Linked DNA regions of Homo sapiens. The protein of the gene in region 1 interacts with the protein of each later gene in a pairwise test. Each region holds a gene or a part of one and is shown in the gene's direction. Other genes may lie near its edges. The genes, in order: MFAP1, NGDN, HSF2BP, ZNF41, CDCA7L, GPRASP3 and HOMER3.

What was found.
Region 2: the proteins of MFAP1 (region 1) and NGDN interact in binary tests that used the Homo sapiens proteins (3 or more experiments, as listed by UniProt).
Region 3: the proteins of MFAP1 (region 1) and HSF2BP interact in binary tests that used the Homo sapiens proteins (3 or more experiments, as listed by UniProt).
Region 4: the proteins of MFAP1 (region 1) and ZNF41 interact in binary tests that used the Homo sapiens proteins (3 or more experiments, as listed by UniProt).
Region 5: the proteins of MFAP1 (region 1) and CDCA7L interact in binary tests that used the Homo sapiens proteins (3 or more experiments, as listed by UniProt).
Region 6: the proteins of MFAP1 (region 1) and GPRASP3 interact in binary tests that used the Homo sapiens proteins (3 or more experiments, as listed by UniProt).
Region 7: the proteins of MFAP1 (region 1) and HOMER3 interact in binary tests that used the Homo sapiens proteins (3 or more experiments, as listed by UniProt).

The regions. Positions count from the first base shown.
Region 1 is NC_000015.10:43,810,474-43,814,927, reverse strand, and holds part of MFAP1 (microfibrillar-associated protein 1), read left to right. Parts: intron 1-239; coding exon 240-427; intron 428-1,570; coding exon 1,571-1,679; intron 1,680-1,780; coding exon 1,781-1,941; intron 1,942-4,454. UniProt on the Homo sapiens protein: Involved in pre-mRNA splicing as a component of the spliceosome.
Region 2 is NC_000014.9:23,472,242-23,476,180, forward strand, and holds part of NGDN (neuroguidin), read left to right. Parts: intron 1-2,929; coding exon 2,930-3,067; intron 3,068-3,316; coding exon 3,317-3,401; intron 3,402-3,484; coding exon 3,485-3,537; intron 3,538-3,787; coding exon 3,788-3,911; intron 3,912-3,939. UniProt on the Homo sapiens protein: Part of the small subunit (SSU) processome, first precursor of the small eukaryotic ribosomal subunit.
Region 3 is NC_000021.9:43,631,517-43,635,970, reverse strand, and holds part of HSF2BP (heat shock factor 2-binding protein), read left to right. Parts: intron 1-2,549; coding exon 2,550-2,699; coding exon of another isoform or gene 2,700-2,708; intron 2,709-4,454. UniProt on the Homo sapiens protein: Meiotic recombination factor component of recombination bridges involved in meiotic double-strand break repair.
Region 4 is NC_000023.11:47,476,073-47,480,526, reverse strand, and holds part of ZNF41 (zinc finger protein 41), read left to right. Parts: intron 1-4,454. UniProt on the Homo sapiens protein: May be involved in transcriptional regulation.
Region 5 is NC_000007.14:21,935,628-21,940,081, reverse strand, and holds part of CDCA7L (cell division cycle-associated 7-like protein), read left to right. Parts: intron 1-4,454. UniProt on the Homo sapiens protein: Plays a role in transcriptional regulation as a repressor that inhibits monoamine oxidase A (MAOA) activity and gene expression by binding to the promoter.
Region 6 is NC_000023.11:102,719,175-102,724,205, forward strand, and holds the start of GPRASP3 (G protein-coupled receptor associated sorting protein 3), read left to right. Parts: upstream 1-1,568; 5' UTR 1,569-1,651; intron 1,652-1,782; 5' UTR 1,783-1,917; intron 1,918-2,189; exon of another isoform or gene 2,190-5,031. UniProt on the Homo sapiens protein: Survival and differentiation promoting protein that plays a role in the regulation of neurosynaptogenesis. Induces phosphatase PP2A activity which results in APP dephosphorylation and inhibits BACE1-mediated processing of APP.
Region 7 is NC_000019.10:18,934,530-18,938,983, reverse strand, and holds part of HOMER3 (homer protein homolog 3), read left to right. Parts: 5' UTR 1-1; coding exon 2-15; intron 16-99; coding exon 100-256; intron 257-499; coding exon 500-631; intron 632-4,454. UniProt on the Homo sapiens protein: Postsynaptic density scaffolding protein. Binds and cross-links cytoplasmic regions of GRM1, GRM5, ITPR1, DNM3, RYR1, RYR2, SHANK1 and SHANK3.

The DNA.
Region 1 (4,454 bases):
GGGAAGTTTTTTTCTGGATATAAGAAAAAGTTCATGCCAGTGCTCATTTGTTGAAGCCTTAAAAACATGAGATCACTGCTTTGGCAGGACTCTGATCATGTTCCTTGTTTGTGGGGATAGGATTAAAAATAGAATGATACTAAGTTGTATCTTTTTACATTTGAATTTGTTGTGTTTGATGAGACGAACAAAAAGCCATAGGCCATTTGACTGACTGGCTTATATATATGACTTGATAGGAAATAGAGCGGCGGCGTGGCATGATGCGTCAGCGAGCACAGGAGAGAAAAAATGAAGAGATGGAAGTCATGGAAGTGGAAGATGAGGGTCGTTCTGGAGAGGAGTCAGAATCAGAGTCTGAGTATGAAGAGTACACAGACAGTGAAGATGAGATGGAGCCTCGCCTTAAGCCAGTCTTCATTCGAAAGTAAGTATCTCACAAGCCAGATCTGAATCCACTTAATTACCACTTTCCAGGCCTGGAGACAAAAGTCTGTTTTCTGTCTTGCTATTCTGAAATCTAAACGCTGAGTGAAAGTGCTTTTGCTAGTGCTCTACCCTTGGCAGACTAGCTGCTGAGGAATATCTTGGCGTTAGCAGAGAACCTGAGTTTGTTTTCACATCTCTTTTTTCAGTAATAGAGCATATATCTGTCCAAGGCCTTTTTTTGTTTGTTTGAGACAGAGTTTCGCTCTTGTTGCCCAGGCTGGAGTGCAATGGCATGATCTCGGCTCACCACAACCTCCACCTCCTGGTTTCAAGCAGTTCTGCCTCTGTCTCCCGAGTAGCTGGGATTACAGGCATGCGCCACCACGCCTGGCTAATTTTGTATTTTTAGTAGAGAGGGGGTTTTTCCATGTTGGTCAGGCTGGTCTCGAACTCCCAACCTCAGGTGATCCGTCCTCCTCAGCCTCCCAAAGTGCTAGGATTACAGGCATGAGCCACGGCACCAAGCCAAGGCCATATATTTTTAAGCACAAAATTAAACTCAACGAGCAAATTCCTATTCCTTTCCTGATGGCTAGAAATCCTACTGCTTAGAGGCCAGCAGGTTCTTTGCTGTCTAGGCAGTTCTCAAAGATGAACATGATTTTAGTCCTCTAAAGACCTGGGATGATGGCTGGGCACGGTGGCTCACGACTGTAATCCCAGCACTTTGGGAGGCTGAGGTAGGTGGATCAGGAGGTCAGGAGTTCAAGACCAGCCTAGCCAAGATGGTGAAACCCCATCTCTACTAAAAATACAAAGAAATTAATCAGGTGTGGTGGCAGACTCTTGTAATCCCAGCTACTCAGGAGGCTGAGGCAGAGAATTGCTTGAACCCAGGAGGCGGAGGTTGCAGTGAGCCAAGATCACACCACTGCACTGCAGCCTAGGCGACAAGTGAGACTCCGTCTCAAAAAAAAAAAAAAAAAAAAAGACCTGGGATGACTCAGCGTTTTTTGCTCTTTGAAAATAATAGAGCCAAAGATTGTTTGGTTTTTGTCTGATTTGGATGGGACTAGGTCTAGGGGAACAAAGCACTCCACTCTAAGGACTTTGGGCAATTAACAGGATCTCTGTGATGCAGGAAGGACCGAGTGACAGTTCAAGAACGTGAAGCCGAAGCATTGAAACAGAAGGAGCTGGAGCAGGAAGCAAAACGCATGGCTGAGGAAAGGCGCAAGTACACACTCAAGGTACTGGGGAGTGGTTGCAAGGAATGAGTACAAGAAATAGTGTAATCAGGTTTGTCTGAGGAGAGTAAGGAAGTCCAAGCTGAATTGTTCTCCCTATCCAGATTGTCGAAGAGGAAACCAAAAAAGAGCTGGAAGAGAACAAGCGATCCCTGGCTGCATTGGATGCACTCAATACTGATGATGAAAATGATGAGGAGGAATATGAGGCATGGAAAGTTCGAGAGCTAAAAAGAATCAAGAGGGACAGAGAAGATCGAGAAGCGTGAGTAAAAAGATGAGCCTAGAGTTAATGCTGCTAATGGAACAGGTTTCTAGCAGGATAGCTCTGAGACTCATTACCTACTGTGAGTTCCATTCTAGCCACCTTCAGAGTTCTTGTTGCTTTGTGAGTTTCCTATAATTGGAATATGAGTTTCACTTGCTACAGTGAAATCAGGGAAGAGAAAAACACTTTGTCGATGTGTGTCCATAATAGAGTGCCAGCCAGTGCTCCCTTTAGTTTCCTAGTAGACACAAAAATTAGTAACTGTTAGTAGTTATCTCTTCTTGTGTACAACCCAACCCACAATTGAGTGACTTGAAACTATAATTTATTACTTTTCACAACTTTGGAGGTTGGCTGAACAGTTCCTCTACTGATTTCACCTGGGCTTACTTATGTAGTTGCATCCAGCTGGAAGGTTGACTGGGCTGGAAACTTAAAAGGGCTTCACTCACATGTTAGTAGTAGGTGGTGGCTATCAGTTAGGATACCTCACTTATCCTTCACTGGATTAGACTGGCTTCCTTACATAGCAGTCTCAGGGCACCATTCTAAGAGGGCAAGGTCTTCTGACATGTCGGTTCCAGAACTCATACATCGATCTTGCCACATACTGGTCAAAGCAAGTCACAAGGCCAACCTAGCTTTAAGCAGGTGGAGAAACAGACTCCACCTCTGCAGAGGAGGAGCAGCAAAGTCATACTTTTTGAAAAGGGGCATACATACTGTGAGGGGAAGAATTTGTGGCACTTAAATAATCTACACTGTGTTAGAGCAGAATCTTTTTTTTTTTTTTTTGACATGAAGTTTCACTTTTCACCCAGGCTGCAGTGAAGTGTCACAATCTCAGCTCACTGCAGCCTCCGCCTGCCAGGTTCAAGTGATTTTCCTGCCTCAGCCTCCCAAGTAGCTGGGATTACAGGCATGCGCCACCATGCCTGGCTAATTTTCGTATTTTTAGTACAGACAGGGTTTCACCATGTTGGTCAGGCTGGTCTCGAACTCATGATCTCAGGTTGTCCACCCAACTCGGCCTCCCAAAGTGCTGGGATTATGGCATGAGCCATCATGCCCGGCCCCAGCAGAATCATTTCTGAGCTGCATCACTCATTCCTGTAAATTACTAGGTATGAGAGGGTAATCCCAGATTACAAAGGAAACCATCAATAGATAACTCTAGGCTGGGCGTGATGGCTCACACCCATAATCCCAGCACTTTGGGTGGCTGAGGCAGGCGAATCACTTCAGGCTGAGAGTTCAAGACCAGCTTGGCCAACATGGTGAAAACCTATCTCTACTAAAATACAAAAATTAGCTGGGTGTGGTGGTGTGTGCCTGTTATTCCCAGCTACTCGGGAGGCGGAGGCAAGAGAATCGCTTGAACCCGGCAGGCAGAGGTTGCGGTGAGCTGAGATCGTGCCACTGCACTCCAGCCTAGGTGACAGAGTGAGACTCTATCTGGAAAAAAAAAAAAAAGAAAAAAAGAAAACTTGCCTGAGTATGAGCTACACACAGTAGATAACTCCATACTCAGCCTGTAATTTTTTGTTTTTGGTTTTTTTTTTTTTTTTGAGACACAGTCTCACTCTGTCGCCCAGGCTGGAGTGCAGTGGCGCAATCTTGGCTCACTACAACCTCCACCCCCTGGGAGTCAAGCGGTTCTCCTGCCTCAGCCTCCTGCGTAGCTGGGACTACAGGTATATGCCACCACGCCCAGCTAATTTTTGTATTTTTAGTAGAGGTGGGTTTTCACCATGTCGGCCAGGCTGGCCTTGAACTCCTGACTTCAGGTGATCCACCCACCTCGGCCTCCCAAAGTGCTGGGATTACAGGCATGAGCCACCACGCCTGGCCCTCAGCCTGTAGTTTCTAAGATTTTTATCCTGGACCTGTAGGAGTAGGAGTCTAAGTGCCCTTTAAAATTGTACACAAGGCCGGGCGTGGTGGCTCACGCCTGTAATCCCAACAATTTGGGAGGCCGAGGTGGGCGGCTCACAAGGTCAGGAGTTTGACACCCGCCTGTCCAACATGGTGAAACCCTGTCTGTACTAAAAATACAAAAATTAGTCGGGCATGGTGGCACACACCTGTAATCCCAGCTACTCAGGAGGCTGAAGCAGGAGAATAGCTTGAACCTGGGAGGCAGAGGTTGCAGTGAGCCAAGATCATGCCACTGCACTCCAGCCTGGGCAACAGAGCAAGATTCCATCTCAAAAAAATATAAAATTGTACACAAAATTGTGTGTATGTATGCATTTTATTTGGAGACAAGGGATATCACTCCCTCTCCCCAACACTGGCTAAAAAGTTACTGCAATCTGGCTGGGCGCAGTGGCTCACGCCTATAATCCCAACACTTTGGAAGGCCAAGGCGGGCGGATCACGAGGTCAGGAGATTGAGACCATCCTGGCTAACACGGTGAAACCCCGTCTCTACTAAAAATTCAAAAAGATTAGCTGGGCATGGTGGCGGGCACCTGTAGTCCCAGCTAATCGGGAGGCTGAGGCAGGAG
Region 2 (3,939 bases), on another chromosome or scaffold:
TTCCAGCACTTTGGGAGATTGTGGCGGATGGATCACCTGAGGTCAGGAGTTCGAGACCAGCCTGGTCAACATGGCAAAACCCCATCTTTACTAAAAATACAAAAATTAGCCGGGCATGGTGGCGTGTGCCTGTCTGTAATCCCGGTTACTCGGGAGGCTGAGGCAGGAGAATTGTTTGAACTCAGGAGGCAGAGGTTGCAGTGAGCCGTGATCATGCCACTGTGCTGCAGCCTGGGCAGCAGAGCAAGACTCCATCTGAAAAAAACAAAACAACAACAATTAAAATATTGTAGTTTTCAAATGAAGGTCTGGTAGAACCTTCTCAGGGATTACTGGTTGGGGGCAATGTGGAAGAACAACTCTGGATCTCTCATCCCTACTTAACTGGAAAACTCTGGTATTATCTGTTTTTATATATTGAGCTTTTGTCCTAAGATATTTAGGCCAAATATTCTATGGGTAAATACAAGTATGAAAATCATTGTAATAAGAGTCACTGAAGGAGTTTTAAGCACAGGAGTTACAGCAGATTTGTGCTTACAGAAAGATAACTAAAAACAGCATTCAAAATATATTCCCTTCTTGTCTTTATCATTCACTTATGTTCTTATTGTCCATTTTTATTTAAAAAAAATTTAAATCTTTGTTTTTCTCTCATATGCTTGTAGCTCAGTTTGAATTTGACAATGCCCAAGCACGTCGGAAGAGCCTGCTTCTCAAATTCTTACCTGTTTTTGTCCTGGGTACCATGCTTTTTTGTTTTGTTTTGTTTCGTTGAGATGGAGTCTCCCTCTGTCGCCCCGGCTGGAGTGCAGTGGCACGATCCTGGCTCACTGCGGCCTCTGCCTCCTGGGTTCAAGTGATTCTCCTGCCTCAGCCTTCCGAGTAGCTGGGATTACAGGCGCCCGCCACCACTCCTGGCTAATTTTGTATTTTTAGTAAAGACGAGGTTTTACCATGTTAGCCAGGCTGGTCTCGAACTCCTGACCTCAGGTGATCCACCCACCTCGGCATCCCAAAGTGCTGGGATTACAGGTGTGAGCCACCACACCAGGCCTTGGGTACCATGCCTTGAACCATTTCAGTGCCTTTTGGAGATGGATGAGTTGCCAGCATCCTTCTTAGATCCCTATATATTTGTTTATTTATTGAACAAATACATATTAACTTATCTTTTTGACCAAAGACTTTTACTAGGTGCTTTATAGGTTACAAAGTTCTTTCACATTATCTTATTTGGGCCTCATAATTATTCTTTGTGGCAGGGAGGAAATGTACATATTTTACTGATAAGACTGAGGTTGGCCTGGTGCAGTGGGTCACGGCTGTAATCCCAGTGCTTTGGGAGGCTGAGGCAGGTGGATCACGAGGTCAGGAGTTCGAGACCAGCCTGGCCAACATGGCGAAACCCCGTCTCTTAAATCTTAAACAAAGATTTAAATTTTTTTTAAATAAAAATGGACAGTAAGAACATAAGTGAATGATAAAGACAAGAAGGGAATATATTTTGAATGCTGTTTTTAGTTATCTTTCTGTAAGCACAAATCTGCTATAACTCCTGTGCTTAAAACTCCTTCAGTGACTCTTATTAACAATGATTTTCATACTTGTATTTACCCATAGAATATTTGGCTTAAATACAAAAAATTAGCCGGGCGTGGTGGGAGGCACCTGTAGTCCCAGCTACTTGGGATGCTGAGGCAGAAGAATCACTTGAACCCAGGAGGTGGAGGTTGCAGTGAGCCGAGACAGTGCCACTGCACTCCAGCCTGGGCGACAGAGTGAGACTCCATCTCAAAAAAAAAAAAAAAAAAAAGACTGAGGTCACAAGGTTAAGTGACTTACTCAATATTTGACTACCAAACACCTAATTCAGAACTTAAACTCAGTTTGTGGACTCTAAATCCTTTGCTCTCCTTCTATACCACAGTAGTGTTGATCTCAAGAGCTTAGCATGTTGGCTTAAAGACATCCAGGGATGAGGTGTTGGAGTCAGATTGAGTTTGAATCTTAGCTCTACTTGTATTACTGTGTTATCTTGGCCAAGTATTTAACCTCTCTGAAATAGGTTTTCTCAGGGCTGTGAAGTTTGGAAGATACATAAAAGCCCAAAGAAAAAAATGAAAAATCAGTATAATCACCACTCTGAGATAACCACTGTGGTAATATTTTTGAGATTTTTAAAATTATAAGAATAATATATGCAACACTTTTTCACACTCTAAAGTACACCATTTCTTCCTTTTCCTCATCTCACCCTAGGGGTAGCAGTTACTTGTGTGTTGTCTTGTAGACATTTTTCTATGTGTATAAAATGTATTCATCATATCCCCCCCTACACACACACACTTTCACAATTGAAGTCATATTACACTTTCTACAACTTGTGGTGACATGGATTTAATTCGATGTCATTATATATAAATCATTGTTTTTACCTGTATCATATAATTCCATTGTATGGGGGGAAATTGGTAATTACTTTGATTAAATTAATTTAAAACTTGGCAGTCTGTGGAGACATTTTTGATTGTTAGAGCTTGGAGGGGCCATCCGTGGGAAGAGGCCAAGGATGCTGCTGGAAACCTACAATGCCCAGGACAGCCCTCAACAAAAAATGTTCTGGCTTCAAATGTCAATAGCTCTGAGATTGAGAAACCCTGTTATAGTCTTTTTTGGGGGGGTAGTTTATTGATTTTCCTCTTCTCATTGTCTTCTATTAATTTTCTGAGCGTTGTTTCTCTTGTATTAGCATAACTTTCTCATTGGCCTTCTTAGGCATAGCTACTTCTTGAGACTATTCCAGATACCTAATATGAACTGATTGGGAAAATCTTGAACTTGGAAAAACATCCCGTTTACCCTAGGCTTTCATCTGGTTCTTTGGCTAAAACCAAATCTGTTTTTCTTTCTGTTTTGTTCAACTCAGGGTCTCAGCTTCTTGGAAGTGAAAGACCAGCTGCTGCTCATGTACCTTATGGATTTGACCCACCTCATTCTGGACAAAGCCTCAGGAGGATCTCTTCAGGGACATGATGCAGTTTTGAGACTGGTGGAGATTCGCACGGTATGAAGCATTTGGCTTCTTGGAGTTTTAGGTTTCTAAATTTTGAGCTCCAAGGGTATCACACAGTAGCTCTCATTTAAGTGAGTCTTCTCATGTTTAAGGAAACCAAATGAGAAAAGGTATTTTTCTATTCATTTGCTCTACTTTGTACATATTTTAGGTGCCTTATGTGGCACCTTAATATAGGGACTCTGGTGTGTGCTTCATTTTGGGAAGGAAATATAATCCTGATTAACTACCATGTTGTAGGTTTTGGAAAAGCTTCGTCCCTTGGACCAAAAGCTGAAGTATCAAATTGACAAGCTGATCAAGACTGCAGTGACAGGCAGCCTTAGTAAGTGAGGAGACCATCATGAAGTTGTGGGGACCATCAGAAAGTTCCAAATTTTGTAAAATTCATTGGGTTATTTATTTCAGGTGAGAATGACCCACTTCGTTTTAAGCCTCATCCCAGCAATATGATGAGCAAGGTAAGGGGTTGTAGTATTCTCCTGATTTTTTTCTGAGGCAGCTATACCTAGATGAGCCTCTTGGTGATCCTGGATACCCTGGGATTCTCTTAGGACTTGATTTTCCAACTTGTGTGTTAGAATGCTGAGTTTGAGATTCCCTTTTTTCCCTTTTTATATTCCCACCACCCCAGGGTACTCCAGCTTTGGGTTTTCTTCTCACTTATCTCATGAATGCTTCCTAAATTTGCAGACATTGTTTCTTTTGTAGTTGAGCTCTGAGGATGAGGAGGAAGATGAAGCAGAAGATGACCAGTCTGAGGCTTCAGGGAAGAAATCTGTGAAGGGAGTGTCTAAGAAATATGTTCCTCCACGCTTGGTTCCAGTACATTATGGTATAAACTTTGGCTGCTGCCTCCTCAG
Region 3 (4,454 bases), on another chromosome or scaffold:
ACTGTGCCTGGCCTATGATTCTGTTTTTTTTTTTTTTTTTTTGAGATGGAGTCTCGCTCTGTCACCCAGGCTGGAGTGCAGTGGCACGATCTCGGCTCACTGCAGTCGCCCCCTCCTGGGTTCAAGCGATTCTCCTGCCTCAGCCTCCCGAGTAGGTGGGATTATAGGTGGGATTACAGGCCCGTGCCACCATGCTCAACTAACTTTTGTATTTTTAGTAGAGACGGGGTTTTACCATGTTGGTCAGGCTAGTCTTGAACTCCTGACCTCAAGCAATCCACCCACCTCAGCCTCCCAGAATGCTAGGATTGTAGGTGTGAGCCACCGCACCCGGCCCTATGATTCATTTTGAATTATTTTTTTTTTGCATATGAATATTCGGTTGTTTTAGCATCAGTTGTTGAAAAGACTATCCTTTTTCCATTGAATTGCATTGGCACCTTTGTTAAAATCAGTTGACATGTCAGTGTTTCACTGATCTATATGTCCATCCTTATAGCAATACCACAATGGTTCTATTTCGGTAGGTTTATAGTTAGTTTTTTCCTCTAAATCAGGCACTGTTAGTCTTCTAACATTGTTCTTCTTTTTCAGACAATTTTTTAGATATTCTGTCTTGAATTTCCATAGAAATTTTAGAATCAGATTATCACTTTGTACAGAAGTCTGCTGAGATTTTGATAGGGATTGTGTTGAATCTGTAGATCAGTTTGGGAAGAATTGACATCCTGCCAATTTTTGAACATGGTGTATCTCTTTATTTAGCTCTACTTTCTCTCAGTAATGCTTTGTAGTTTTCATTGTATAGGTCTTGCACCTTAAAAAATTATTCTTATTTTTGATGTTACTGGGAATGCTATGATTTTCTTTGAGGTTTGTTTGTTTTTTTTTTGATATTATTATACTATGTGTGGAACCCTGCGTTGGGGAATATCCTCCTGCAACTACCAAATGTGACTGTAGTGAGCAAAGTCCTTCCTGGTTCTTCTCAGTAGTCTTTTTGTGGTCGTGCAGAAGAACCACCATATCCTGACTAATTGAGATGCAGACAGCTTAAGTTGTGAGAAAAGCTAGAATTCCAAAAGGAAGTGCTGTGACATAGTTTTCTTCATGTGTCACCATGACTTGTGTTCAGCTACGTACACTGAAAGGATGAATCTAGGAGTCCAGATTGTTGCTATAATGAAGACATTAAAAACCCGGAGCTGACAGATCACATGATGCAGTATTAGCATGTGCCAGAGGCTCAGTGGCCATTTTTTTCTTAAATACATGTGTGCATATACGTATGAATGTGTATGAATCTCTGTGTGCCAAACGCATTGTCTCCAGGTAACTATGAGTGGGCCACCCTAATCCAAGTTATGAGGTCAACAGTTTTGATTTGTGGCTCCAAAGCTCCCTTTTTCCTCCAGGGGGTGAAAAGCCCCCTCTACTTTGTCTTGTATTTATCTCTCTAAAAGAAAATCTACAGCATTTAATATACTTTAATTTTGTGGTTTATGTAACTAATTACATTTGGTATAAATGAATTTAACTGGGGTTTTATATTTTTCAGTTTTTGTCTTATTAAATCAGGAAATGCTATCACCTTTTAAGGGAATTTCAGGTACCTGGTGCTGGTGGTTGGAGAGGACAGGAAGCCCCCCATCACTCTAGCAGTACACTCAAGGTGAATCCTCGAAGTGTGCTTGTGTTGTCAGGAGGGCCATCAGGACGGCCATTCCCTGTGTTTCCCTTGTGAAGAGTGCCATGGTGGAGACTTGCCCAGCTACAGGTCACCTCAGACACTGCTGGTGGGAGAGTAGGAAACTCTTCCTAGCCTCCATCTTCTTCTTAGACTGGCACTGGCTTGCTGCACCAGGGCATGAATAGGACTCCCAGCCTTCACACTTCTTTTTGCCCCTCCTCCCATCTTTCCTACCTGGTCTTAGGTTTTAGGTTTTCTTTCCCTGTTTAGCTTCACAGATTGTATTTTATATTTACTGGCACCTTTGGCAATATTCTCATGAGGAGTTAAGGATACGTTTATACAGGATGAGTTTTTCTAAAGTACTTGTTTTTTTACAAATCCTGATGTCCAAGTGCCTTTTATTTGGTGTCTGCCTCTGGCAGATGGCGTTTTTTCAATGGAGTGAGCCATTTGGAGGAGGCAGTCTCCTGTCTTAGAAATGTTGCTTTCTGGGTAAATTGCTTTGTGAGGTTGTTTTTGTTCAGAAGCCTCGGTTGGTGCTGGTTCTGGGTATAGTTACTTGGGGCTTGAGATATTTCATGTAGTTACTTAAAGCAGATGAATTCAGCTCTGTGGGTTTATCAACCATAATGTGGTAGTATGTTCTTTCCTCAGATATTTCTCAAATATTTTTGCCTTTGAAATTTCTTTTGTAGATACAGATTATGGTTCTCTTAGGACTAGCTTTCATTTGCAACTATTTTCTATAATTATACATGCATTTCTTTAATAAATATCTTTGTGAAAGAGGAAATGTAATAAAGATATATCAAGGTTGAATGCTATTATTTATTTTTCAATTTTGTTTTGCTTTTAGGAGAAACTGGCTCTTCGACAGCAGTTGAATGAAGCGAAGCAGCAACTCCTGCAGCAGGCAGAGTATTGTACAGAAATGGGAGCAGCAGCGTGTACCCTCTTGTGGGGTGTCTCCAGCAGTGAGGAAGTCGTCAAGGCCATTTTGGGAGGAGTAAGTATGGTCAGTGGGCTCTCCAGATATTGTTGATTACTGCTTGTGTAAATTAGAGCATATAGCTTATTAAGGCATTTAAAGACTAAGTCCATATCTTTCCATTTTCTTTTGTTCACTCATCAGCTAGTTATTGAATACTTATCGTATATGGTTCATTGTAACCTGATGCAAAGGGAATGAAATAAGATCCCTTCTCTCCAGGAGACCTTGTGGTATATGTGGACATATTACCACTTCAGTATTAATACTTTACATGTGTTTAAGAAGATCAAAAGTGCTTTTATATATATTATCTCATGGTTAATATAGTATTTATTGAATATTGTGTTATCTAACATATATACATGTATGTAGATGTGTGTGTGTGTTTATACATACACACACACACACATACATATAGATGCAGAACCTTGAGCAACATGGAGGTTGGAGGCGCTGACCCCCTGCACAGTCGAAAAGCCACATAGAACTTTTGACTCTCTCTACTGTTGGCTGGAAGCCTTACTGACAACATAAATCGTTGATTAACACATTTTTTGTATGTTAGATCATCATGAAGGTCTTCCCCCTCATCATCTTCAAATTGAGTAGGCTGAAGAGGAGGAGGAAGAGGAGTGGTTGGGTTGGCATTGCTGTCTAAAGGGTGGTAGAGGTGGAGGAGGTGGAAGGGGAGGCTGGAGCAGCAGACACACTTGGTGTAACTTTTACTGAAGAAAATTCTTGTGTAAGTGGACCTGTGCAGTTCAAACCCTTGTTTTCAAGGTTCAACTGTGTGTGTGTGTGGCAGCGTGTGTGTGTGAGCATGTGTGTTTGAGCATGTGCATGTGTGTGTGACTGTGTGTGTGTGTGGGAGCATGTGTGTGTGGGGGAGTGTGTGTGTGTGGGGGGGGAGCGTGTGTGTGTGGGAGCGTGTGTGTATGGGAGCATGTGTGTGTGGGGGAGTGTGTGTGTGGGAGCGTGTGTGTGTATGTGGGAGCCTGTGTGTGTGTGTGGGGGGAGCGTGTGTGTGGGGGAGTGTGTGTGTGTGTGTGTGAGCCTGTGTATGTGGGATCGTATGTGTGTTTGTGTGGGGGAGCATGTGTGTGTGTGGGGGAGCGTGTGTGTGTGAGACTGTGTGAGTGTGTGTGTGGGAGCGTGTGTGTGTTTGGGGGAGCGTGTGTGTGGGGAGAGCGTGTGTGTGTGTGGGAGCGTGTGTATGTGGGAGCGTGTGTGGGGGGGGAGCGTGTGTGTGTGTGGGAGCATGTGTGTGTATGTGGGAGCCTGTGTGTGTGGGAGTGTGTGTGTGGGGAGCGTGTGTGGGGGGGGAGTGTGTGTGCCTGTGAGCCTGTGTATGTGGGATCGTGTGTGTGGGAGCGTGTGGGTGTGTGGGAGCATGTGTGTGTGTGGGAGCGTGCACACGCACATGTATGCATGCGTGCAGGCATTTGTCAGGGAACTTCACAGAAGGGGATAAATTTGAAATGGGCCTTGATGAATAGGTAGAAATGGCAGAAAATGGGTGGGTTTGTTTTAGGACAGTGAGTAGGTCAGTTGACACAGTGGAGAGTTAATGTCATAGAGTAGTGGGGAGGTAAAGCTTAAACGTAGGTTGGGATGTGACTTTGGGACCTTGAATACCAGGTTGGTGATTCATTCTGTAGGTGGGAAGACTGGATTTTCCCTAAGGGTTTTTCAATAAAAGTGATAGGATAAGAGCAGAATTTTAGAAAGATTCACCTGACAGTGGGTGAGGATGGATTAGGAGGTGGAGTT
Region 4 (4,454 bases), on another chromosome or scaffold:
TGTCTTGTCTTGCCTAGTGACTTCCTCATTTCATGTTCAAACAAATACGCCTTAAATTTATTTTTAATATATTTATTTCAATTTTTTAAAGTTAAATTTTAATCTAACTGGAATTTATTTTGGTGTATGGTATGAGATGGAATCAGTTCGTATATTCCATTTGGATAGCTAATTTTCCAGCACCAGTCGTTAAATGAATACCCTTTTCTAATTCAATTAAATGTCACTTTTGTCACATAAGTTCCCAAATGTGTATTGTTTTATTTCTGAACTCTGTTTAGTTCTTCTGATATATGTATCTACTCCTTTTTAAAAAATCATATTGACTTTAGAAATAGTTTTAACATCATGTAGAACTAGTCCCCCTTGCTTTCTTTTTGGTTGCTTTAATTAATTTTCTTGTGCGTTTATTCTTCTTCTTTTTTTTTTGAGATGGAGTCTTGCTCTGCTGTCACCTAGCCTGGAGTGCAGTGGCGCAATCTTGGCTCACTGCGACCTCCACCTCCCGGGTTCAAACAATTCTCCTGCCTCAGCCTCCCAAGTAGCTGGGACTATAGGCGCGTGCCACCCTGCCCAGCTAATTTTTGTATTTTTAGTAGAGACGAGGTTTCACCATATTGACCAGACTGGTCTCAAACTCCTGACCTCGTGATCTGCGTGCCTCGGCCTCCCAAAGTGCTGGGATTACAGGCATGAGCCACCGCACCCAGCCTTATTCTTCCATGTAAATGTTAAAACTATTTTATCTAGTTTCAAAAATAACCACTAAAACTATAATTTTTATAGTTTTCTTATGGGTCCAACACCTTTTTTTTTTTTTAACAGTTCATCCTTAGATATTTTACCTTTGTTTTTATCATCATTGTGAATAGCATATTTTTTTTCTATTTCCATAGGGAAAATCTATTTTTATAATTTTATTTCATATTCAATCCAATTACCAAATTATCATATGAATGTAGTTGCTTTTTACAGTCTCTTACTTTTCCTAGCTATCGTATTCCATCCAATTAAAAATGATACTGTCTCTTCCTTTCAAATATTTATTCTGATCACCTCATCTTCTGTTGCACTAGTTAGAGCTTTCAGAACAATGTTGAGTGACATTTAATAGAGGGTATTTGCTATCTTGTTGCTAATGTTAATGAAAATAACTTGGGCATTTTTTATTTGAATGTGAAAGGTGTTTATTCATTAATCTATTCAATAAACATTTATTGAATACCTACCCCTTGCCAGACATTGGCTTTGCAACCCTGCTTGGCACTTACTAGCTATGATTTTTTTTTTCTAACAGCTTTATTGTATCATTCATCTACCATAAAATTCACCCATTTAAAGCTTACAGTTCAGCAGTTCTTAGCATATTCACTGAATTGTGCAACCATCATCACAATCTAATTTTAGAGTATTTTATCATCCCAAAAGGAAACATCGTACCCATTAGCAATCATTCCTCATTCCCAACCCTCACCCCTAGCCACAGGCAACCACTAATTTACTTCCTGTCTCTATAGATTGGTCTATTCTAGACATTTTATATAAATGGAATCATAAAACGTGGTCTTTTATGATTGCCTTATTTATTTATTTTAGACAGAGTCTCACTCTGTCGCCCAGGCTGGAGTGCAGTGGCCGGATCTCAGTTCACTGCAGCTGCCGCCTCCTGGGTTCAAGCAATTCTCCCTGCCTCAGCCTCCCAAGTAGCTGCGATTACAGGCGCCTGCCACCACGCCCGGCTAGCTTTTGTATTTTTAGTAGAGACATTGGCCAGGCTGGTCTTGAACTCCTGACCTCAGGTGATCCGCCCACCTCAGCCTCCCAAAGTACTGGGACTACAGGCATGATCCACTGTGTCCGGCCATGATTGTTTTCTTTAACTTAGCCTAATGTTTTCAAAGCTCATCCGTGTTATAGTATGTATTAGGACCTTATTCCTTTTATTATTTTGTTTGTTGTGGTACGAACACTTAACATGAAAGCCACCCTCTTAAATTTGGTTTGTTTGTTTTGTTTTGTTGTGACAGAGTCTCGCTCTGTCACCCAGGCTGGAGTGCAGTGGCATGATCTCGGCTCACTGCAACCTCCACCTCCCAGGTTCAAGCAATTCTCCTGCCTCAGCCTCCCACGTAGCTGGGACTATAGGTGCGTGCCACCACACCTGGCTAATTTTTTGTATTTTTAGTAGAGACAGGATTTCAACATATTGGTCAGGCTGGTCTCGAATTCCTGACCTCAAGTAATCTACCTGCCTCGGCCTCCCAAAGTGCTGGGATTACTGGTGTGAGCCACCGCATGTGGCGTATTCTCTTAAATTTTTAAGTGCACAATACAGTACTGTTAACTATAGGTGCAATATACAGCCAATCTCTAGAACTTCCCTCTTGTATACCTGAAATTTTAACCCGTTGAATAGCAACTTCTTATTACCCCCTCCTCTCAGCCCCTGGCAACCACCATTCTACTATCTGTTTCTATCAGTTTATTTTAGAAGTACTTCATGTCTTTTTATTCCTGAATGATATTTCATTGTATGGATACACCACATTTTGTTTATCCATTCATCAGTCGATGGACATTTGGGTTGTTTCCACTTTTTAGCTATTATGAATAATGCTGCTATGAGCATTTGCGTACAAGTTTTTGTATGGACATATGTTTTCATTTCTCTTGGGTGGATACCCAGGAGTGGAATGACTGGTATAAGGAGTGAGGTAGAAATTTACCTCTTCCCTTTTAGGATTTCTTTTTGTCTGGGCCTGAAAGTTAAATTGACATATGACAGATCAACAGAGAAAAGTGTACAGATTTATTTAATACAAGTTTTATGTGGCACAGGAGCCTTCATAAAGAAATGAAGACCCAAAGTAGTAGTTAGAGTCAATCACTTATATACTGGATTGGACAAAGAATACTTAAGTTGTGAAAAAGCAACTCAGTTATGTGGGGAGGCTTAAAACATAAGAGTTTTAAAAAATTTTTTTGGCTTATTTCTCCAAGAAAAAAAGTTATTTTTCATAAGATCTGTACACAATTCTCTTGCTCTCAATTTCCTGGCCTTGATAGTAAGAATGTGGCATTCCAGCTGGGCACGGTGGCTCACGCCTGTAATCCCAGCACTTTGGGAGGCCGAGGTGGGTGGATCACCTGAGGTCAGGAGTTTGAGACCAGCCTGGCCAACATGGTGAAACACCATCTCTATTAAAAATACAAAAACTAGCTGGGCGTGGCGGCGGGCGCCAGTAATCCCAGCTACTTGGGAGGCTGAGGCAGGAGAATCGCTTGAGCCCGGAAGGCAGAGGTTGCAGTGAGCAGAGATCGTGCCACTGCACTCCAGCCTGGGTGACAGAGCGAGACTCAGTCTCCAAAAAAAGGCCGGGTGCTGTGGCTCACGCCTGTAATCCCAACACTTTGGGAGGCCGAGGCGTGCGGATCATGAGGTCAGGAGATCGAGACCAGCCTGGCCAACATGGTGAAACCCCATCTCTACTAAAAATACAAAAATTAGCTGGGTGTGGTGCGCGTGCCTGTAGTCCCAGCTACTCAGGAGGCTGAGGATTCTTCTGCCTCAGTCTCCCAAGTAGCTAGGATTACAGGCACCCACCACCATGCCCAGCTAATTTTTGTACTTTTAGTAGAGATGGGGTTTCACCATGTTGCCAGGCTGGTCTCGATCTCCTGACCTCAAGCGATCCACCCGCCTCAGCCTCCCAAAGTGCTGGGATTACAGGCATAAGCCACTGCGCCCAGCCTTCTATTTTTAACATTTTGAAGAATTGCCAAACCATTTTCCAAAACGGCTGCACCACTTTATGTCCCAGCAGCAATGTATGAGGGTTCCAGTTTATCACATCCTTGCTAATGCTTATTGTCTTTTTAATTCTATCCTTCCTAGTAGGTGTGAAGTGGTATCTTGTGGTTTTGATTTCCATTTCTCTAGTGGCCACTGATGTTGACCATCTTTTCCTGTACTTATTGCCCATCTGTATATCTTCTTTGAAGAAATATCTATTCAAATCCTTGGCCTATTTTTAAATTGAATTGTCTTTGTATTATCAAGTTGTAAGAGTTCTCTAGATAATCTCGATAGAAGTCCCTTGTCACATATGCGATTTGCATGTATTTCCTCTCTTTCTGTGGGTGTTTGTTGTTGTTGTTGTTTGTTTGTTTTTCTGAGACAGAGTCTCGCTCTGTTGCCTAGGCTGGAGCGTAGTGGTGCCATCTCGGCTCACTGCAATCTCTGCCTCCCGGGTTCAAGCAATTCTCGTGCCTCAGCCTCCCAAGTAGCTGGGATTACAGGTGCGCATCACCACACCCAGCTCATTTTTGTATTTTTAGTAGAGACAGGGTTTCGCCACTTCAGCCAGGCTGGTCTCGAGCTCCTGGCCTCAAGTGATCCGCCTGCCTCGACCTCCCAAAGTACTGGGATTACAGATGTGAGCCACTGTGCCCAG
Region 5 (4,454 bases), on another chromosome or scaffold:
GGTAGCTCTATCAGCCCAGGTTCTGGTGTGAGGACAGTGTGGAATAGAGCCTTGGGCTGGCCTGTGATGGACATGTAATGTGAACAAGACGGAAGCCTTTTTTTTTTTTTTTTTTTTTGGTTTGAAGCTATTGATTGAGATTTAGGGTTGTTTGCTACTGCTTTATAGCTTGTCATATCCTAACAGACCAGGGTGCTCCTATTTCAGTTTTGGATTCAATCACTCTGTGGTTGTCATCTGAGTGATCTGGGGTCATGGTAGTCGTGGTAACAAACGTGGGTGGGTTTCTTTTTGATTGTTAGAGTGATGAGGGTGAGGGGAATGCCCCTGGTAAGTGGTTTGGAGTTCAGGGGTATTAAGTACCATGTGGCAGGCAGGAGAGTCCTACAGGATGAAGCAGTTGTTCTGTCCAAAACGTCAGTTGCACCTTGTTGGAAAACACTGAGAACAGACTTGTCCAATTTGATAATCTTTTAGACTCCAGAGAAATCTTAACATTGGCTTCACATGTTCTATCTGCTGACCTCCCTGGAGGAGGAAATTACTTCACACTTCCCAAGTGATTTGGTTCACTTCACTCCCAGGATCTCTGCCAAAATTCCAGTTCATTAGGTACTCATCTGCTGAATAGCTCTTCTAAGACCTGTGTAAATACATATCTAAAATGACTTCCCATTTATTTCTTCTCTTTTAAACATAACATTGACTACCCTGTGGGGCTTTTTATTGTGGTAAGATATACATAATAAAAGGTACTATTTTTAACCTTTCAGTGTTACTAAGTATAGTCACAATGTTGTGCCGCCATCACTGATCTCTCATGAGCTTTTTCATCATTTTAAACTGAAACTCTCTACCTACTAAACAATTACCCCTATGACCTCTTCCTCCAGCCCCTGGTTACTTCTGTTTTAGTTTCTGTCTCTGAGGATATGACTATCCTAGGTATCTCATATGAGTGGAATCATATGGTATTTGTCCTTTTGTCACTGGCTCATTTCACTTAACATTGTTATTAAAGTTTATCCATGTTATAGTATGTATCAGAATTTTTTTTCAATTATTTCTCTTTTGAGACAGGGTCTCACTCTGTTGCCCAGGCTGGAGTGCAGTGGTGCTATCGTGGCTCACTGCGCCTTGACCTCCTGGGCTCAAGTGATCCTCCCACTGCAACCTCTTGAGTAGCTGGGACTATAGGTATGTACTACCCTGCTTGGCTAATTTTTCTTTTTAAAATTTCTGGTAGAGATGGAGTCTCTGTGTTGCCCAGGTTGGTCTTGAACTCCTGGGCTCAAGCAATCCTCCTGTCTTGGCCTCCCAAAGTGCTGGGATTAGAGGCATAAGACACTGTGCCTGACGTCATTTCTTTTAAAGTCTGAATAATACTCTTATGTGTACATACCATCTTTATTTACTCATCTATTTATGTTGTCGGTTGTTTCCACCTTTTGGCTATTGTAAATACCAATGAATAAACATTGGCATACAAATATCTGCTTCAGTCCCTGCTTTCAGTTGTTCTGGGTGTGTGTTCCTAAAAGTAGAATTGCTGGGTTATATGATAATACTAAATTCAATTTTTTCAGAAACCACTATACTGTTTGGCACAGTGGCTGTGTCATTTTATATCATCATAAGCAGTGCACGAGTGTTCCAATTTCTTCACGTCTTTGCCAGCCCTAGTTCTTTCCTGGATTTTTTTTTAATGGCCATTCTAATGTGCATAAAGTGGTATCTCATCGTGGTTTTGTTTTGCATTTCCCCAATGATTAGTGATGTTAAGAATTTTTTTCTTGTGCCCGTTGGTCACCTGTACCTCTTCTTTGAAGAAATGTTAATTCAAGTCCTTTGCCCATTTCTTAACTGGGTTTTTGTAGTTGTTAAGTGAGTTATTTATATATCTTGGATATTAATCCCTTATTAGATATTATTTGCAAATATTTTCTCTCATTCTATATAGGTTGCCTTTTCACTGTCTTGATAGCGCCCTTTGCACAAAAGTTTTTAATTTTGAGGTCTAGTTTATTTATTTTTCTTTTGTTGCCATATCCAAGAAATTATTGCCAAATTCAGTGTCATGAAACTTTTCCCCTGTATTTTCTTCCATGAGTTTTATAGTTTTAGCTCTTATATTTAGATCTTTGATCCATCTTGAGTTAGTTTTTATAGATGGCTTAAGGTAAGGGTCCAACCTAATCCAATTTTCCCAGCACTGTTTGTTGAAAATACTGTTCTTTGCCATTATTCTTGGCATCCTTGTTGAAAATTAGTTAACTGTATATGCAAGGGTTTGTATCTGGGCTCTTTATTCATTTCCATTGATATATATGTCTGCCTTTATGCCAAGACCACACTGTTTTGATTACTATAGCTTTGTAGTAAGTATTGAAGTCAGGAAATGTGAGTCCTCTAACACTGTTCTTTTTTTTTTTTTTCTTTTTTAAGGGATGGAGTCTTGTTCTGTCACCTAGGCTAGGGTGCAGTGGTGCAATCTCGGCTCACTGTAACCTCTGCCTCCTGGGTTCAAGCAATTCTCCTGCCTCAGCCTCCCGAGTAGCCGGGACTACAGGCACATGCTGCCATGCCTGGCTAATTTTTTTTTGTATTTTAGTAGAGATGGGGTTTCACCATGTTGCCCAGGGTGGTCTGAAACTCCTGAGTTCAGGCAGTCTGCCCACCTCAGCCTCCCAAAGTGCTAGGATTTCAGGTGTGAGCCACTGCGCCTGGTCTGTTCTTCTTTTTTAAGATTGTTTTGGCTATTTAGGGTCCTTTGAGATTCCACATTAATTTTAGGATGGACTTTTGTTTTTACGAAAGAAGTCACTGAGAGTTTGAGAAGGAATACATTGAGTCTGTACATAGCTTCAGTTAGTATTGTCACCTTATATTAAGCCTTCCAATCCATGAACATGGGATGGTTCTCCATTTCCTTGTCTTCCTTGATTTTTTCGGGGATGTAGTTTTCAGTGTACAAGGCTTTTTTCGCCTTTTTGGTTAAACTTATTTCTAAGTACTTTATTATTCTGATGCCATTGTAAATGGAATCGTTTTCTTAATTTTCATAATTGTTCATTGTTAGTGTGTAGAAGCATAGTTGATTTTTGTGTTGATTTTGTGTCCTGCAATGTCTAATTGTTAGCTCTAACTACTTTTTGTGTAATCTCTAGTGTTCTCTACATATATAATCACGTCTCTTATAGCAGAGATAAATTTTGCTTCTTCCTTTCCAATTTGGATGCGTTATTTATTTTTCTTGCCTGATTGGTCTGGCTAGACCTCCCAATACTGCGTTGAATAGAAGTGGTAAAAGCAGGCATATTTGTCTAGCTCCTGATCTTAGGGGAAAAGCTTTCAATCTTCCATTCATCATTGAGTATCTTGTTAGTTGCGGGTTTTTCGTATATAGCCTTATGTTGGTGAGTTTAAGTTTCCTTCTATTTTTTTTTTTTCTGATGAGGGAAGGGTGTTGAATTTTGTCAGATGTTTTTCTGCATCAGTTGAGATGATCTTTGTTTTTCCCCTTTATTCTGTTCATAGGGTGTACTACATTAATTGATTTTTATGTGTTTGAACCATTTTGCATTCCTAGAATAAATGCCACTTGGTGATCTTGTATAATCCTTTTGCTACACTGCCGAATTTGTTTTACCTGCATTTTGTTGAGTATTCTTGTATCAGTATTCGTAAGAGATATGGCTGTATAGTTTTCTAGTATCTTTCTCTGGCTTTGGTATCAGGATAATGCTGGTCACATAGAATGAGTTTCAAGTGTTCCTCCTTCTTCAAGTTTTTGGAAGACTTTGAGAAAGACTGGTGTTTGTTCTTCTTTAAATGTTTGGTAGAATTACCCATGAAGCCATCTTGTCCTGGGGTTTACTTTGTTGGGAGGGTTTTGATTACTACTTAAAATCCTTATTTCAAATATATTCAGATCTTCTGTTTCTTCATAATTTAATCTAGCTAGGTTGTTTGTTTCTCGGGATTTATCCATTATATCTAGATAATCCAATTTGTTGGCATACGGTTGTTTATAGTACTCTTAAAATCCTATTTATTTATTTATTTATTCATTTTGAGACGGAGTCTTGCTCTGTCGCCCAGGCTGGAGTGTAGTGGCACAGTAGCGGCTCACTGCAACCTCCGCCTCCTGGGTTCAAGCAGTTCTCTGTTTCAGCCTCCCAAGTAGCTGGGATTACAGGCGCCCACCACCAAGCCTGGCTAATTTTTTTGCATTTTTAGTAGAGATGGGGTTTCACCATCTTGGCCAGGCTGGTCTTGAACTCCTGACCTTGTGATCCACCCACCTCTGCCTCTCAAAGTGTTGGGATTACAGGCGTGAGCCACAGCGCCTGGCCAGTCCTTTTTATTTATGTAAAATTGGTAGTAATGTCCAATTTCATTACTAACGTTAGTAATTTGAGTTTTCTCTGTATATTTTCTAGTCATGTAGCTTA
Region 6 (5,031 bases), on another chromosome or scaffold:
CCAGGCGCGGTGGCTCACGCTTGTAATCCCAGCACTTTGGGAGGCTGAGGTGGGTGGATCACTTGAGGTCAGGAGTTCGAGACCAGCCTGGCCAACATAGCGAAATGCTGTCTCTAGTAAAAATACAAAAACTTAGCCAGGCATGGTGGTGTGCGCCTGTAATCCCAGCTACTGGGGAGGCTGAGGCAGGAGAGTCGCTTGAGCCTGGGGGGCAGAAGTTGCAGTCAGCTGAGGTCGCACCACTGCACTACAGCCTGGGTGACAGAGCAGAACTCCGTCTCAAAAAAAAAAAAAATTACCAAGGGTGTTAAGTTTAATATTAGTCTGTTCATGGTACAAAAATGGCACCTTTTTCACATAATTATTACCGTAAAAAACATAACATTTCCTTTTGAGGTGACAACAAAGTTCTGGAGCTAGATAGTGGTGATGGTTGTACAACATTGATAATGTACTGGGTTGTATACTTTAAAATGGTTAAAATGTTAAATTTTATGTTATGTGTATTTTGCCACGATAATTTAAAAAATGACCACACAATACCTTCAGTCAGGAGAATTGGAAGACAGGGCTATATGTTGGTTTGGAGAGGAAATTCAGACGTACGAGAAATATCCAATGTTTTATTATTTTTAGACATAACATTTATTTGTCTGAGAATGTTCTAAATTTTCAAAGGTAAAATTACAATTCATGTAAATGTAAAAAGAATATGTGAAAGATTTTTCAACACAATCAACAACTGCTAGGATTAAGAAAACAGTTGAAGGGTATATGTGTATATACAATATACACAATATGAAGATATAAACAAAACATTGAATTTCATAAACACATAGGAAATTAATAAATGTTAGAATAACACTGCCAGGTTAAATATAAAACGGGTTAATATCTTACAGGGCAATAAATTGTAACATTTAAGGTTTTCTATTGCACTGGACATAAATCATTTACATATTTATTGAATAAAATATCTACATGTTAACATCAGTGTCTACAGAGTTGAAAAATAGGTAAATCAATAGACATCCTGCACTGCCCTGAAATGACATCCAGTAACTGAAGGTGACTTTATCTAAGTTTGGTATAATTTTTCTGACAGTGCAACATGCTTTTTTTCCCCACCTGATCCTAGTTTGGTAAGGTAATATGGAAGTGGCAGTTTTGCCTCCCATCGCAAGCCATAAGTTTTAACAGGGATTATCCTGGTGGTGCAAATTGGAGTTTGAATGTTTGTTTTGCTTACCAGCATTTTTCAAGACAGATCTGTGTGTGTTTTAGTATGTCGCTTGAGTCGTATACAAAATATTAAAAATCACTTCATTTCCCAAATCCTCATCGAATGTTCCTCGCCAGCCGAGTGGTCCTCCAGAGCAAAGGCCAGCCTTCCTTCCAGCTGTCTGGCCAAGGAGCTTCAGGATCTTCTAGCAAGCACCCCAGAGGCAGAAGACTGTCATCCATGGTACAGGACTGCGGCGAACAAGCTGACTGCGCAGTCACGTGGGGCTGACGGTGGGTCATGTGACCAGGCTCTGCATTAGGCCTGCCGAGAGGAGTGTTTTCTTGCATCCAGAAAAGACCTGAGAGGCGGACGACACCTGTGCTCCGCAGAGCAGAACGTGGGAGGAACGGCGGGATGTTAAGGTAGGTAGGTGTCTTTCCATGCTGCATCAGCCTGAAAACTAATTTCTCAGGCGACTGGAACTACAGCATTTGTTGGTAAAGGAAACAATCCGTCAGCCAACCGGGAGCGTCTTAGCCCGTCTGTCTTTTGTCCAGGAGCTCAAGAAGCAGAGAGTCTACCTGCCCGACGCGTTCGTGGAGAGGAGCAGCGGTTGCTGTTGGAGGAGGTGGGTGCAAGGACGGCAGATGGCATCCCTGAGAGGTGGTGACTGAGACTAGATGCGGGTGCAGGTAATGCCTCAGATCCGCCTGCTCCCTCCTGCCTTTTGAACACCCTTGACCCCTCATCCCAAGGCTCCCAGCCCAGTGCCCTGTGTTTGTATGTGTGGGTGGGGGAGGTGGGCATATGGATGGAGTTGGCTTCAGGGGAGCCCAGAGCGGGGAAATGGTGAAGTGACAATTCGTGAACACCTGTGGTGCTGGATCAGGAAAGGCAGGGGTGGGGATGGGAACCGTGAGCTATGCGTCCGCACTCATTCTACTCTCTGTCTTCTTACTGGCAGTATTCAGGCAGTGGGGATGGCTGATACCAGCTCAAAACTGGCGGAGGGTGGAGGAGGGCAGAAGAGAACACATACATCTGCCTTTTGCTCCAAGGCTCCAGCTGGCTGGGGATGCAAGAGAGGAATGAACCTCAATCCCGGCAGTTCTAGGAAAAGGAGGAGGAGACATAGACTCGAGGGGAGGAAACCTAGATGCTGTGGGCCCTTCACCTAGGATTTCTCATTAGGATACTCCAAGCTTCTCGACCCCCAAGGGGATTCCTGGATCTCAGCCCCATGCAGCAGGATCTCATTCCCATTGAGGGACACAAAGTGGGTTGCTACTCCGTGTGAGCTCTCTCTCCCTGCTGTCTTGGGCCTCAGAGGAGGGTCTTTCTGGGGACCACCTACAGAAACTGCTTCATGGATAGTCTCCTAAGTTTCCCTCTGCATACCCTTTGCTCTCTTGTGTTGTGATCTCTGCTCATTCCTTAGGATGTGTTTCTTTGGTCCCATCCTAGGTAGCAGCCCCATGGTAAGTCCTTGTCCTCTTTCACATCGAGTATCCTCCTTTCCCCCTACCCCATGCACCCACTGGGTACCAAGTGAAAGAAAATGGTTCCTCTACCCACAATACTTCTGGCACAGAATGTGTGGATTTTTCACACCAAGCAATTCTCTTATTCTTTGAGGACATCAGCTAGGTATTCTACAATTTAATTCAATTCTGATACTACCCAGAGTTAGTGCAGACCTCTCTGGTTAAGGGCTCATTCCCATAAGACTGCCCTCCCTCACTTCAGACAACAGTCACAAGTAATGGATCTCCATGTCACCCACACTTCTGTCTGACTTAGCTACTAGTTGGAAGTTCCCACAACCCCCTCCTCAGGTTCAATAATTTGCTATAAGGGCCCACAGAACTCAGGGAAACACTACTTCCTATTACTGGTTCATTATAAAGGATATAAATCAAAAGCCAGATGAAGAGGTACATATGGCAAGGTCCAGAAGGGTCCCAAATGCAGAAGCTGCCATCCATGTGGATTTGGGGTACACCACCTTCCCAGAATATGAATGAGTTCACCAACCTGGAACCTCTCAGACATTTGGGATTTTTATAGAGGTTTCATTACATAGGCGTGATTGATGAAATCATTGACCATTGGTGATTAGCTCAATCTTCAGCCCCTCTCTTCTCCTTGGAGGTCAAGGGGTGAGGCTGAAAGTTCCAACCCTCTAATCATGCCTTGGTCTTTCTGGTGACCATCCATATCTTGAAGCTATCTAGTGCACCCACCAGTCATCTCGGAACATAAAAAAAGACACCTATCACTCCAGAGATTCCAAGGGTCTTAGTGTCAAGAACTTGAGACTAAAGCCACATGTAACAAAAGATGCTTCCGTTATCCCTATCAGGAAATAGCAAGGGTTCTAGGAGCTCTATGCCAGGAATATGGGACAAAGAATTATGGTTACCAAAGGCTGGAAAGGGTATTGGGGATGGGGTATAAAAAGGAGTTGGTTAATGGGTACAACAATACAGTTAGAAGGAATATGATCTAGTGTTCAGTAGCACAATAGGGTGCCTATAGTTAACAATAGTTATTATATATTTCAGTATAATTAGAAGAATAGATTTGGAATGTCCTCAGTGCAACAAAATGATAAATATTTAAGGTGATGTATATCTCAATTACATTACACATTCTATGCTTATATCAAAATATAATTTATACCCCATAAATATGTACAAATATTGCATATCCATGTGAATTAAAAATTTTAAAAAATTTTAAAAATAACTCATTTCAAATTTCAATCAAAATAAAAAAGATCAAATGCTGATTTCTTCATATATCACAATACATACAAAGTCAGTGTAAGAAAGTGTTGCTAGGAAGAAATGACTTTTTCTAATCCCACTCCTATCCTTATGTTTATACCAAGTTTATAGAGTTGAAACTATGTTGTTCTACTACTTTAAGCCCTCCTATTTAGACTTAAAAGCTAGGATAGATACAAGGTATGTGGGGCAAAATCATAGGTAGAGATTAGTCCCTAGGACTGCATCCTCGTCTCCTACCCTCTCCTATTATTTTCTTCTCTTTACTCTCCAGAATTCTGATAATATAAGTACTGGGGCCAGCATTCAGCTTATGGTTTTCTACTCAAGCTGTCTTGTCTCTTGTCTCTGTGTGTTTTTTCGAGTATGTCAACAGAGAAGACTTCAAGTATGGTGTGGTATAATAGAGAATATAGCTGATCTTTATCCCTAGTTGCTGACACAGCTTCAAAAAATCTTGGAATTTCCTGTGTGACAGGAGTATCTTTGTTATGCTAATGAAGTGACTTATGGTGGGCCCCTAGATAGCTTCAGGATGGGGACTGGTCACCAGAAGGACCAACCATGTGATTAAAGGGTTGGAACTTTGGGCCAGCTCAACCTTCAGGGAAGGTAGTGGGGCTAGGTATTAAGTTCAATCACAACCAATGGTTTAATCAATCTTGCCTATGTAATAAAACCCCAGTGAAAACTTTGAACTTCAGGGATAAGTGGAGCTTCTTGGTTGGTGAACATATTGTTCTCTAGGGAGAGTGGTGTACCCTGACTCCATAAGGAGAGGGTATGGAAGCTTTGTGTCCAGAATGCTTTCAGACCTTGTCCTGTGTATATCCTTAAATGAAACTGTAATAATAAGAATAGCACTTTTCTTGAGTTCTACGAGTTGTTTCAGTTAATTATGAAACCTCATAATGTCATAGGAACTCCTGAATTTATAAGTGGTCAGTCAGAAGCATGGGTGGCTTCCTGAGAATTGGGGCTGGTATCTGATCTAAAGTGGGGGCAGTATTGTTGGTG
Region 7 (4,454 bases), on another chromosome or scaffold:
AATGTCCACAGCCAGGTGAGCTCCCACCTCCCCCAGCCTGGCCCTGAGCTTTCTAAGTGGGGGTGCCTGGCCCCCACCAAACACCCTCTCCCCACGCAGGGAGCAGCCAATCTTCAGCACACGGGCGCACGTGTTCCAAATTGACCCAGCCACCAAGCGAAACTGGATCCCAGCGGGCAAGCACGCACTCACTGTCTCCTATTTCTACGATGCCACCCGCAATGTGTACCGCATCATCAGCATCGGAGGCGCCAAGGTCAGGGTGGGGTCTGGGTGGGGCAGAGGCACCAGGAGTCCTGGTGACAACCTTGGGTCTGGTGGCTGGCTTGCTGTGTGCCCAAGGGACAGGAAACCCTAAGCCTTCCCAGGCCCTAGTCTCTATCTCCTGAAAGGGTTCAGAGTAAAGACCTTCAAGACCCTAATACAAGGTAATACCTGGGGGGTTTCATGTTTGTTAGTATCTGTCCCATCTACCTTGAACTTTGTTCCCCGACCCTAGGCCATCATCAACAGCACTGTCACTCCCAACATGACCTTCACCAAAACTTCCCAGAAGTTCGGGCAGTGGGCCGACAGTCGCGCCAACACAGTCTACGGCCTGGGCTTTGCCTCTGAACAGCATCTGACACAGGTGGGCCGGGTGAGGGGGAGAGTGGAGGGAACCGATGAGACTGGGCCCAAGTCTTCTCCTGGGCTCACTCTGGGATCTTGGGCAGGTCCCCTATCTTCCCATCTGCAGGATGGGATTGTAGGATGAGTTGAGACTGAAGCCCCTTTAAGCTTCCCCGGTTTGATTCCTAGTTCATTTTTCTGTTTTTTTTTTGAGATAGGCTGCAGTGATCTTGGCTCACGCAACCTCCGCCTCCCGGGTTCAAGCGATTCTCCTGCCTCAGCCTCCTGAGTAGCTGGGACTACAGGAGTCCGCCACCACGCCCAGCTAATTTTTTGTATTTTATTAGAGACAGGGTTTCACCATGTTGGCCAGGCTGGTCTCGAACTCCTGACCTGAAATGATCTGCCTGCCTCGGCCTCCCAAAGTGCTGCAATTACAGGCATGAGCCACTGTACCTGCTCTTGAGTCCTAGTTCTACTGCCTGTAGCTCTAATTTTGGACACACCCTGCTCCTCTTTGGGACATCAAATGGGTGGCTGGGCTGGGCTGGGCACTTTCCCACATGCCCCAGCAATACCTTCATCCTCACCTCCCTGCACCCTGTGCCGTCTCTATACTTCCATTATTATCTTTATCCGTGGTTTTGTTGATGATGAGTGCTTTCACGAAGATCTTCTTCTTTTTTTTTTTTTTTTTTTGGAGATAATGCCTTGCTCTGTCCCCCAGGCTGGAGTGCAGTGGCACGATCTCGGCTCACTGCAACCTCCACCTCCCGGGTTCAAGCGATTCTCCTGCCTCAGCCTCTGGAGTAGCTGGGATTACAGGTGCCCACCACCTCGCCCAGCTAATTTTTGTATTTTTAGTGGAGATGGGATTTTGTTGGCCAGGGTGGTCTTGAACTCCTGACCTCAGATGATCCACCTGCCTCGGCCTCCCAAAGTGCTGGGATTACAGGCATGAGCTACCACACCAGGCTTTCTTTGTTTTCTTCTAGAAGGTTTAGAATTTACCTTTCTTCTTTTTTTTTCCCTCCCTCCCTCCCTTCTTTTTTTTTTTTTTTTTAACAAGATCTTGCTCTGCTGTCCAGGCTGGAGTGAAGCAGTGCAATCATGGCTCACTGCAGCCTCAAACTCCTGGGCACAAGGGATCCTCCCACCTCAGCCTCCTGACTAGCTGAGACTATAGGCGTATGCCACCATGCCTAGCTAATATCTTTAATCTTATTTTTTTTAGAGATAGGATCTCACTATGTTGTCCAGGCTGTTCTTGACTCCTGGCCTCAAGCGAGCCTCTCACTTTGGCCTCCTAAAGTGCTGGGATTACAGGCTTGAGCCACTGCACCCAGACAATTTACTTTTTTTTTTTTTTTTGAGACGGAGTCTCGCTCTGTCGCACAGGCTGGAGTGCAGTGGCGCGATCTTGGCTCACTGCAAGCTCTGCCTCCCAGGTTCACACCATTCTTCTGATTCTTCTGCCTCAGCCTCCCTAGTAGCTGGGACTACAGGCGCCTGCCACCACGCCCTGCTAATTTTTTTTGTATTTTTAATAGAGACGGGGGTTTCACCGTGTTAGCCAGGATGGTCTCGATCTCCTGACCTCGTGATCCACCCACCTTGGCCTCCCAAAGTGCTGGGATTACAGGTGTGAGCCACCGCGCCCGGCCCCAACAATTTACCTTTCTAATTTAGGTCTTTTTTTTTTTTTTGGAGACAGAGTCTAGCTCTGTTGCCAGGCTGGAGTGCAGTGGCCCGATCTCGGCTCACTGCAACCTCTTCTCTCCAGGTTCAAGCAATTCTCCTGCCTCAGCTTCCCAAGTAGTTGGGATTACAGACACACCACACCTGGCTAATTTTTGTATTTTTACAAAATTTTTGTTTTTTTAATTTTTGTATTCTTAGCAGAGACAGGGTTTCACTATGTTGGCCAGGCTGGTCTCAAACTCCTGACTTCAGGTAATCCGCCTGCCTCAGGCTCCCAAAGTGATGGGATTACAGGTGTGAGCCACTGCACCCAGCCTAAAAAATCATTTATTTATTTATTTATTTATTTATTTTTTTGAGACAGAGTTTCACTCTTGTCCCCCAGGCTGGAGTGCAATGGTGCGATCTCGGCTCACCGCAACTTCCGCCTCCCCGGTTCAAGCAATTCTCCTTCCTCAGCCTCCCAAGTAGCTGGGATTACAGTCATGTGCCACCATGCCTGGCTGATTTTGTATTTTTAGTAGACATGGGGTTTCACCATGTTGGTCAGCCTGCTCTTGAACTCCTGACCTCATGATCCACCTGCCTCGGCCTCCCAAAGTGCTGGGATTACAAGCGTGAGCCACCACACATGGCCTTATCTATTTATTTTGAGACAGAGTTTTGCTCTGTCACCCAGGCTGGAGTGCAATGGCACAATCTCAGCTCACTGCAACCTCCACCTCCTGGGCTCAAGCAATTCTCCTGCCTCAGCCTCCCAAGTACTAGGATTACAGGCGCCCACCACCATGCCTGGCTAATTTTTGTGTTTTTAGTAGAGATGGGGTTTCACCATGTTGGCCAGGCTGGTTTCGAACTCCTGACCTCAAATGATCCGCCCGCCTTGGTCTCCCAAAGTGCTGGGATTACAGGTGTGAGCCACCGCACCCGGCCTAAAAAATTATTTTTAAACTAAGGAAATTTATTTTAAAACCGGGGTGGTGGGGGGAAACATATCCTATCCTAACTGGAAAACTGGTATTGCTTTGTCATAAATAGGTGGTAAATGTAAACATGTAAACATTTAATACAACAAAAACAAGAATGAGATGATTACTTTCTCATTGACTTCTGATGTCTCTCAGAGCCTGAGACCTAATCTCTTTGTTATAAAGGAATAATAACAGGTGTTAAAGACAGATTAGCACCCACCTGAGGCTCTCTTTGTTGAAATAGCCCTGATAAAGATTAAAAGGGACCCCACATGTTGGCTCATACCTGTCATTCTCACACTTTGGGAGGCCGAGGTGGGTGGATCACGGGGTCAGGAGTTCGAGACCAGCATGGCCAATATGGTGAAACCCCATCTGTACTAAATACAAAAATTAGCTGGGCGTGGTGGCACGGGCCTGTAGTCCTAGCTACTCGGGAGGTTGAGGCAGAAGACTCGCTTGAACCTGGGAGGCAGAGGTTGCAGTGAGCTGAGATGGTGCCACTGCACTCCAGCCAGGGTGACAAAGCGAGATTCTGTCCCCCCCCAAAAAAAAAAAAAAAAAAGGCTGGGTGCTGTGCCTGTAATCCCACCACTTTGGGAGGCTGAGGCAGGCGGATCACTTCAAGCCGGGAATTTAAGATCAGCCTGGCCAACATGGTAAAACCACATCTCTACTAAAAATATGAAAATTAGCCAGGCATGCTGGTGCATGCCTGTAATCCCAGCTACTCATGAGGCTGAAGCAGAGGCTGCCGTGAGCCAAGATCATGTCACTGCACTCCAGCCTGGGCAACAGAGCAAGACTCCATCTCAAAAAAAAAAAAAACAAAAAACAGGAAAAGGGCCATTCTGGGGAACATGGCTAGACCCCGTCTCTAGAAAAAATTAGCCGGGCATGATGGCACACACCTGTAGTCCCAGCTCCTTGGTGGAGGGGTAAGGTGGAAGGGTCACTTGAGCCAGGGAGGTCAAGGCTGCAGTGAGCCGAGATCATGCCACTGTACTGCAGCCTGGGTGACAAAGTGAGACCCTTTCCTAAAAAGAGGACATGGGAATTCCTTTCCCTTTCTCAATGTGGCCCAATGTATTTAAATGCCACCTCTGTGATCTGATGCCACCTGCCCACCCACCATGGTACATCATTTTTCAAAGTTTCTCTCCTTCTTCC